2 separate regions of the Homo sapiens genome follow, and region 2 is reported to be linked to region 1. Evidence: microRNA targets listed by miRTarBase, many of them from high-throughput screens and not tested one by one. Region 1 holds a microRNA gene; the other region holds the end of a gene's coding sequence.

Region 1 (4,384 bases):
GTTTCTCCTGCAACCTGTCATGTCCTTCCCCTGCACACACCTTCTCCCCTTCCCTTGAAAATCTCAGTTCTCTCCCCTCCCAATCCCTGCCCCATCCCCACCCCAACCTCCACTTCCCTCATCTGTAGCATAACAGGAAGGAGAGTAAATGGGATTGGCTCAGGCACTTTAAAACATCAAGGGCCAATGGCTGTTCTTCCTTTGGTTCCATATCTCCCTTTTCCAATATTCTTTTTCCTTCCAGGGACTATGTGTTTGAATTTTAAAAGAGCAGTGGATACCCATCAACACAAAGAAATCAGGAATGGAGGCAGTGGGAAAGTAAGGGAATTTTCTATCTTCCAGATAATCATGAAGATGAATACTGCATATTTCTCAATAGCATGTAGGGGCTGTTATCAATTAGAAAGGGAAGGCAGAACGAGCACAAGAGAAATGCAATGACTCCACAGTCTAGAAAGGCAGTCAGGATAAACTGCAGTCAGCAACACCCAGGTACAGTTCCTGGATCTGCTCACAGGCAAAAACCCTTTTCTTGGCTTCTGAATTAATGCCTGGATCTTTGGGTCAGAGTAGTGTTTGGTAACTTTCAGAAGAGTTCAGAAGCTTATATTGACCACTTGGCCCCAGTGTATGTGGATCCTTTTTTTTTTTTTTTGAGACAGAGTCTCACACTGTTCCCAGGGCTGGAGTGCAATGGTGCAATCTCGGCTCACTGCAACCTCCGCTTCCTGGGTTCAAGCTATTCTCCTGCCTCAGCCTCCCCAGTAGCTGGGATAACAGGCACCCGCCACCATGCCCAGCTAATTTTTTGTATTTTTCATACAGACGGGGTTTCACTATATTGGCCAGGCTGGTCTCGAATTCCTGACCTCATGATCTGCCCACCTCCGCCTCCCAAAGTGCTGGGGTTACAGGTGTGAGCCACCACACCCAGCCCAGTGTGGATCTTTGGCAGAGAAAATGTACTATAGTTACCAGATTGTTGGACTAGGGCCCTGAAATCTACTTCTTTTCCACCATGCAGTCTCCTATCCAGTCTTCAAAACCTAAGCCAAACACCACTTTCTTTGAGACACCTTCCTGGCCTCCTTCATGTAGATTTACTCCATTCTACCTCTGTGATCCTATGGCCCTGTGTTCATATCTCAGGGCACACACTGTATAGCAAGTAGCACATAACATGCCTGCTTCATCCACTAATCTGTGAGCTTCAGCTCAGGCTGAGGCCATTTTTGTAGCTCTTGAATTTAGCACAGTATACAGCACCCAGCAGATGCTCAATAAATAGTGAATGGGCCGGGCGCAGTGGCTCTCGCCTGTAATCCCAGCACTTTGGGAGGCCGAGGCGGGCGGATCACGAGGTCAGGAGATTGAGACCACGGTGAAACCCTGTTTCTACTAAAAATACAAAAAATTAGCTGGGCGTAGTGGCCGGCGCCTGTAGTCCCAGCTACTCAGGAGGCTGAGGCAGGAGAATGGTGTGAACCCGGCAGGCGGAGCTTGCAGTGAGCCGAGTTTGCGCCACTGCACTCCAGCCTGGGCGAAAGAGCGAGACTCCGTCTCAAAAAAAAAAAAAAAAAAGAAAGTGAACGAATGTGTACTTGCCCTGCCACTAACTAGTTATATATCTTAGACAACTCATTCACTTATCCTCACTGGAATTACTCATTTAGGGTAATGAGTAATAGGGATGGCACAATTTGTGTGACCAATGGGATTATTACGTAGTGCAGAAGAGATAAGATGTGTTCTTAATATAGATATGCTACACAATCACAAAATTCCTAGAGCTGGAAGAAATTTGGAAATCATCTAATACAATGGTTTTCAGAAATTTGAAGCCAAAGAACTGTTTTTTAAGGAAAGCTAACAGGAAAGTCCAATATTTTGGACTAATCTTTTTTTCATAAAAGATAAAAGATAAATGTAAGCTTCTCCAGTTGAAGACCCAGCATACTCTCTCCTTCCTCTCCTCTCCTTTCACCTCCATCCTGGGGATGCAAGAAGCACAGTTTGAAAACCAGCCTCTCACTTTAGTGAGAATAAGCTGAAGCCCAGAGAAGGCAGTGAATTTCCTAAGGTCACAGGGCTAGTTAGAAAGAAAAGTAGACCAGGGAAGGAATTAACACATGAAGACTGCAGTGATATGCAGGACAATAGCTAGTCCTTGAAAAAACAACATACTTAGTGCATACCCATATAATATTAGGGGTGGTCTGTTGTTGTTTTTCTTTTGAGACAGGGTCTCGCTCTGTCTTCCAGGCTGGAGTGCAGTGGTGCAATCATAGCACACTGTAACCTTGAATTCCTGGGCTCAATTGATTCTCCTGCCTTGGCCTTCCGAAGTGCTGGGATTACAGGTGTAAGCCACCGTGCCCAGCACCACATATTATGTTTAATTCTTGCAATATTCTATGAGGAAGTTAGGGCTGTGACGATTTCTGAGATAATGAAACTGAGGCTTTAAAAAATGGGCTTGAATAACATTCCATGGTCAGTTGTAGTAGAAGTAAAAGTAACTAGTAGCTTTATTGAGCACCTAATATGTGCCAGTCACCTTTGTAAGCACGTTACACATATTACCTCATTTAATTATCCAACAACCAGCACCATCATTAGTCATAATTTTACAGAAAAGAAAACTGAGGCACAAATTGGTTGAAGGAGCTGTTTTGGAATCCCTGCACCAGTCTGATTCCATGCAAGCTCTTTTTGCTACATCATGCCGATCTGAGGTCCTGAACCCAGGTGCTCTGTCTCTTAGCTCAGTGCCTTCTCCAAATGCTACTTGATATGAAAGAATCCTGAAAGAGTCCTGAAAGCACATTCTGTTATTTGCACTTGATGGTGGAAGAATGAGGAACCTTATTTGTATTCAGGGTACTTCTCAGACTCCATCTAAGACCCTGATCTTTTTCCTTCTGGTACTGATTTGCCCTGTTCAGGGCTGGTCAGTACGACTCACCTCCTTCTGGATGGACCGGGTAAGAAACAGGGAGACCTCCTCCAGGCTCTGGGGTTTCAGGTCATTCACTGCCAGAAGATGATCTCCGTGGCAAAATATGCATCCCAAACGTGGGGGGCCTTCCCACTGAGACACACTGCAGTGGGAATACAACATCCAATACCAGTGTGAGGCTCAGCTGGCCAGGAGGGCAGGGCACGCAGGGTCTCCTGATTCTAGGTCACGTGGCACCACCTCTGAAGTAGACTATCTCCTTCTGTTTAGAATATTGTTTCCTCTGTCACTACAATAGGAGCCTAACCCTTCCTCCAAAGCCCAGCTCAAATTATACCACCCTTACAAAGGCCCATGAAATCCTACATCCCATTCCTCTGCTATAATTCATCTCCCCTACCCCTGGACTTCTATTACATTGTGTGAGTACCTGATTTGTTACATTTTTAAATAAAATGCATTTTACATTTACTTGTTTTTGTGGCTGTCTTTTTCTTACCAGGTTACATGACCCCAGAAGTATGATGTCACCTTTTTGTTTGTTTTGTTTTTTAATTTTTAAAACCCCATGGTTCCAAGTAAAGAAAGAGTGCTCAGCGTTTGTTGGAAGTGAGGGTGTAATGATTATACAATGAATATATAATGAACAAATAAATGAATTAAGGAATGTAGCAGCTCAGTTATGGAGGAGTCCACAGTTTCAGTCAAGTGTGTATTGAGCCTTAGATTGTGGACTATTTAAAAAAATGGAAGGTGTGTTTCCTCCCTTCTTAGAACTTATAAGACAATTAATGTGTAGTGTTTACATTAAAGAGTTTTCTTCCCTTATGAAGATGAAATCTTCCATCAAAATAAATTACAAAGTGTTTTAAAAAAATGCCATATCAAATAGACAGTGATTGCTTTAAGAAAATTCTCTGCCACACAGTCTTTTGTGTCTGTGTCTGTGACTAGCAGTTTTTGTTTTTTGTTTTTTTTTAACCTTGTGTCTGGAAGTCTTAGAAGCTGATGTGCTTTCTTCTTTTAGGCCTCTGATTCTTGTTGACTTCACTAATTTCACTCATTCATCAAATACTCATTGTACAGTGATTGGAAATGATGTCCTTGGGCCACCTGTATCCCAGCCCCTTCTTCCTCCCTTAGAGGAGTCAGAAATGGCTGCTTCCTGAACTTTTGGGTCCTGTTATTCCCCCTGCTCACCTCCAGGCTGACTTTTCTGCACAACAAGACCCTGATTTCTGCCTCAAAGATTTTTTTGTAACAACAGCCAGTCAACAGTCCAAGCTCCCCCGCCCCAAACCTAGTCAGTGTTGCCAAATACACTGTTTCAAGATGTAATTGTTCTCTTCAAAGCTTCCAGCCCCATTTATAATCCACAACAGTCAAATCTCCAACCTACCATATCCGTCCTGTGGCTTCTGT
Region 2 (4,384 bases), not on the chromosome of region 1:
GAGGCCTTTGCTAATCCCTGCCAGGGTCCCGCCTGGGGCCAGAGGCTGCGAGGGCCTGGGGAGCTTCAGCCTTGGGGGTCTGCGGCGGTTACTTACGGTTAACAGATTCTGGGCTCGCCGGAGAGTCCTTTCTAAGAGCTGGTAGGAAATAAGAGGATTATTTATTAGGGTCTCGTGTTGGGCCACCGGGGGGCGGGTAAGGGTTGTATTCTTTGTGCTTCTCCATGTTTTGAACTCACACCAGAGCTCAGCCTCTAAAACGGCACGGGACAAATGCCCGCCACCCTTTGGGATCTGCTGGAACGTGTCTGTCATCTCCCCCCGCCCCCGCTGACCCGCTGTCTGTCTCTGTCTCTCCGTCCAGGGGAACGCCCTTTTGCTTGTGACTGGCAGGGCTGCGACAAGAAGTTCGCCCGCTCCGACGAGCTGGCCCGCCACCACCGGACGCACACGGGCGAGAAGCGCTTCTCCTGCCCTCTGTGCTCCAAGCGCTTCACCCGCAGTGACCACCTGGCCAAGCACGCCCGCCGCCACCCCGGCTTCCACCCGGACCTGCTCCGGCGCCCTGGTGCCCGCAGTACCTCCCCCAGCGACTCGCTGCCCTGCAGCCTGGCCGGGAGCCCTGCGCCCAGCCCCGCGCCCAGCCCAGCCCCCGCAGGCCTGTAGGGCCCTCGTGCAGCCCACCCTGACCGCCAGGATGCTTCTGCCATCCAGGGGTGTAGTGAGGACCCACGGGGAGCCTGGGCCCCTTCCAGCCGTGGGCAAACCCTGAAGACACCCCTGCCCCCCTCCAGAGAGTGAGGAGGGGGCCTGAGACTGGACCTGGGTCTGCCTGACCTCAGAGGTGGCTCTCAGGATGGGTGACGGGGGCTTGTGTCTGTAAATAGCCATGATACTAACTTTCTTCCCATCTGTGCAACGGGGCCCCCCCAGGGCAGCTAGGAGGTCCTCCCCTCTCCTCTCCACCACCCCCTGCTGCCCCCCTCCCGGGGTGGGGTTTGGGGGGGTGGAGTGGACTTCTGGGAGCCGGCCCGGGGAAAGCACCCCCTGCCCCATCCCTGCAGATTGGGATGAAGTGTTCAGACAGCCATAGAGGAGTCGGGGGTTGACACGGCCCCTGCCTCTCCCCACCCCACCCCCACCCCACCGAAAGCCATGGGAGTAGTTCAGGGAAATGGGGGTGCAGCCCAGCCACCCCCCATTCGGGTACTCAATCTCAGGTGTCCACAAGTTCTGCCCACGGTAGGGGCTGCCTGGCCCCCCAGACCTCGGGGGTAGAGCCAGGAGTGGGGCAGCGTTAGGATGCCCGGAGGGGCTCCAGGTGTTGCTTCTGAGACCTGGGATGGGGAGGGAGGGGACCTCTGGGTTCTTCCAAAGAACATTTGACTCAGTGGGGTCGGGAGGGAATCCTGGCTTATTTATTTTCCTCTGTCCTCGGGTGTGGGGGCCCTAGCTCGCCCTCTCTGGGTGGGTGGGTGAGAGAGGCTGCAGGGGAGGCTGGCACCGGGCTTGGGCCTCCAGTCCCTGCCTTGCTGACTTTGGCCGTTGCGGTATCACGTGACAATCAACTCTCCCTTAACGACGACTGCGGCTGTTGGGCTGCGCTGCCCTCCCTGGCCTGCAGGTGGGGCCGTGGAGCCCATGCCCGCCGGGGTTGCAGGCTCTTCCGGGCCTGGGCTGCAGCCTGGCCCGGCCCTGCTTCCCTGGCCTCCCCTCCTTCTCCTGGGTGCTTGGAAGAGGTGGGTCCTGGCCCGTGGTTGAGGTCTTGCCTCGTGGACTGGAAGCAGAGGGCTGGCTGTGCAGCCTCCTGGGGTAGCTCGTTTTTTTTGCACCGGGTAGAATATTTTTTCAGGCACGGATTCCTTTTTTTCTGGGCCCCCATGGGTGGTCCGGCATCCTCAGGGGGTGTGAGTGTGTGTGGGGGGTCTCTGAGCTGAACTTGGGTGGGGTGGGGACTTGTTCCTCGGGGGCCACCTTTGTGTCCTTGTCAGCGGTCGTCCTGCTGTGGCCTGGGTTGCATTTCCTCTTGGGGGGGGTATTGAGGACCCCCAGCCTGGAATGAGAAGGGTCCCCGGTTCCATGTCAGACCCAGAAAGGTGGATCCCCCCACTGTTGGCTGCAGGAGGTTTTTGGTACCCCCTTTTGTTCCAGAACCGTCCTGCCTCTCGCTTGGGGACAGGGGGGCTTTGGATGGCACTGGTGTGCACCTGGACCCAGCCCCGGCCTGGCAGGATCCAGGGATGGGTGCCTGGGATCCTGGGGGGAGGGAGGCAGGGGACGCCCTTCTGGAGCTGGGCTCGGAGGGTCCTGCCCCATCCAGCCCTCGGCTCTCTGTGTTCTCTGTCCCTAGCCTCAAACCCTCTTCTGGCAGCGCTAGTGAGATGCCTTAGTCTGTGGGGGTGGGTGGGGGACTGGGGCCCCGTTTTCCTTTGTGAGTCTTGGTTGGCCCCAGCCCTGGCAGGGGCCTGTCTGGAGCAGGGGTAGGTAGGGCTGTGGGTTCCAGAACTCTATAACTGGGCCCCTCTCCAGTGTCCAGGGGCTTGGAGAGACCTGCGCCCACCCCTCCACTCTCCCAGGAGTCGCTGATCACTGGGACCTGGTTCCAGCCGTTTGCAGGGGAGGCGGCTCCGAGAGGCGTGTGCTTTCCGTGGGTGGCGCCCCTCCCCCGCCCTGCCTGGCCTCATCCTTGTATTTAATTAATTAAACAAGCCCCTTTTTAAACCCTACTCCAGCGTGTGTGTGGTCTCTCCCGTGGCAGTCCCCACCTGTGGGCACGCTCTGAATCCCTCTGTCCCACCCACCAGTGTGGTCCCAAGTTCATCCACCTCGTGGGGAAACCGAGGCAGCGGGCTAGTGAAGGGGGTCTTGGCCAGGCCCCTCTGGCTGAGACACAAAATGCCCTGCCCCTAGCCCTAAGCCCCGCGGAGGGGGCTGCCTGCAGCAGCGCGCGCTGCGCCCGCCGGGTGTCACCCACGCCTGGCGCAGCTGCGCCCCCCGCCCAGCTTCCCGCCCGCCCCGTTGCCTGGCAACCGAGGCACAGTGACAGGGCGCCCGGGGGCGTCCACCGCCCGCCCCTTCCGGTGCCGCAGGGGATGGGGGAGCCTGCGCCCCCGGGGCTGCTCGCCGGCGCGGGACAGGCTCCTCCACGGAGGGTCCCCCGGCCGCCTCCCAGGCTCCTGTGCTCCTGTATTGAGCGCCTACTGTATGCCAGCTCCCCTAGTGGGAATAGGGAAGAGGGGGCGGTGAGAGCTTTGAGGCCCTCCCCAGGAAAAAACCACTGTGGACTCCAGCGCTCCCCAGAGCCTGGAGGCCGGCGGGGCTGGGATGGGGCCGGGCAGGCCACTCCTACACACCTGCTGAGCCCTGGGGCTTCGCCTGCTGCCCGCCCGGGGAAGGGGGTGGTCGGCCTCTCGTATCGCGCGGCCGGCGCCGGCTCACGCCAGACCCCTCCCCAACCTGGGCGGCAAATTCCCGGCTTTACTCGAGGGCAGCCTCCCTCGTGCACCCCCAATCCTGCCCGACCCATCCTCCCATCCTACCGGACGCCCCACAAACATCACTCCCGGGACTCTCGCACCCCTCCAGCTCCTGCCTGGTTTTCTGCCCCTCTGGAGCAAAATGTCTAGAATATGGGGTCTACACTCGCAGCCTCACCCCTCTCTCTGACGGACACACTCGCATTAGGCTTTTAAATTACACGCCCCACCCCCAGCACACACACGTGCCCAGAAGCAGCACCATCCTTTTGGTGCCTTTGGGACCCCGACCCTCCCGGGCGTCCCTCCCACCCGCAGGCTGCTCTTGCCATGCCCCCTCCTCGGTCGAGGGCAGTTCCATCCTGCAAGGCCAAAATCCTTGGGGAGTCACCCTGGACCCCACTGTGTGTCTCACCACCCACATCTGGCCCATCTGAAACCTCCTTGGGCTCTACCTTCAAAATAGATCCAGGATCTGGCCGCCTTTCCCTGCTGTAAGGGCTTCCACCGCGACGGTCTAGCCTCCTCACGACTCACCTGAACCAGTGCAATCACCTTGGCCCTGGTCTCCTCACGGTTTGTCCTCCCCACGGCCACCAGAGGGTGTCCGTGAACACCTGGGGCAAGTCTGGTTCCTCCTCTGCCCGCAACCCTCCATGGCTCCCACTGCCCTCACAGTCAAAGCCCAAGTCCTCCCTGAGGCCCATAGGGTTCTGCATGACCTGCCCCGTCCTCTCCCTGCTCTTCCCTCCTGCCTCTCTCCCCCTCCTCACCCTGGTCCAGCCACACTGGCCTCCTCGCTGTTCCTCCAACACACCAGGCGCAGTCCTGCCCATGGCCTGTGCCCTCTGCCCGGAATGCTTTTCCTCCAGAAGCCTGCTTGGCTCCCTCATCATCTTTTATTTATT

Evidence for each region. Region 1 holds the annotated microRNA hsa-miR-4483 (GGGGUGGUCUGUUGUUG, at 2,212-2,228, shown strand). A microRNA usually pairs through its seed, bases 2 to 8, with sites in the 3' UTR of a target mRNA and lowers its output. Matches are read on the target gene's strand: a 7mer-m8 pairs with bases 2 to 8, a 7mer-A1 pairs with bases 2 to 7 and ends in A, and an 8mer does both.
Region 2: the mRNA of KLF16 is a reported target of hsa-miR-4483. Seed matches in the 3' UTR shown: 7mer-m8 at 965-971.

The regions. Positions count from the first base shown.
Region 1 is chr10:113,775,844-113,780,227 of GRCh38, reverse strand. MIR4483 (microRNA 4483) reads left to right here and starts at 2,174; the gene lies at 2,174-2,235. PLEKHS1 (pleckstrin homology domain containing S1) reads right to left here. Exons shown (of 13, transcript NM_001395068.1): 11 at 4,362-4,384; 12 at 2,969-3,104.
Region 2 is chr19:1,850,741-1,855,124 of GRCh38, reverse strand. KLF16 (KLF transcription factor 16) reads left to right here. Exons shown (of 2, transcript NM_031918.4): 2 at 365-2,726. The coding sequence ends at 666. Among named protein-coding and RNA genes, the nearest start is that of REXO1, 4.4 kb to the right of the region's middle. RefSeq lists enhancers at 1-69, 70-627, 628-1,184.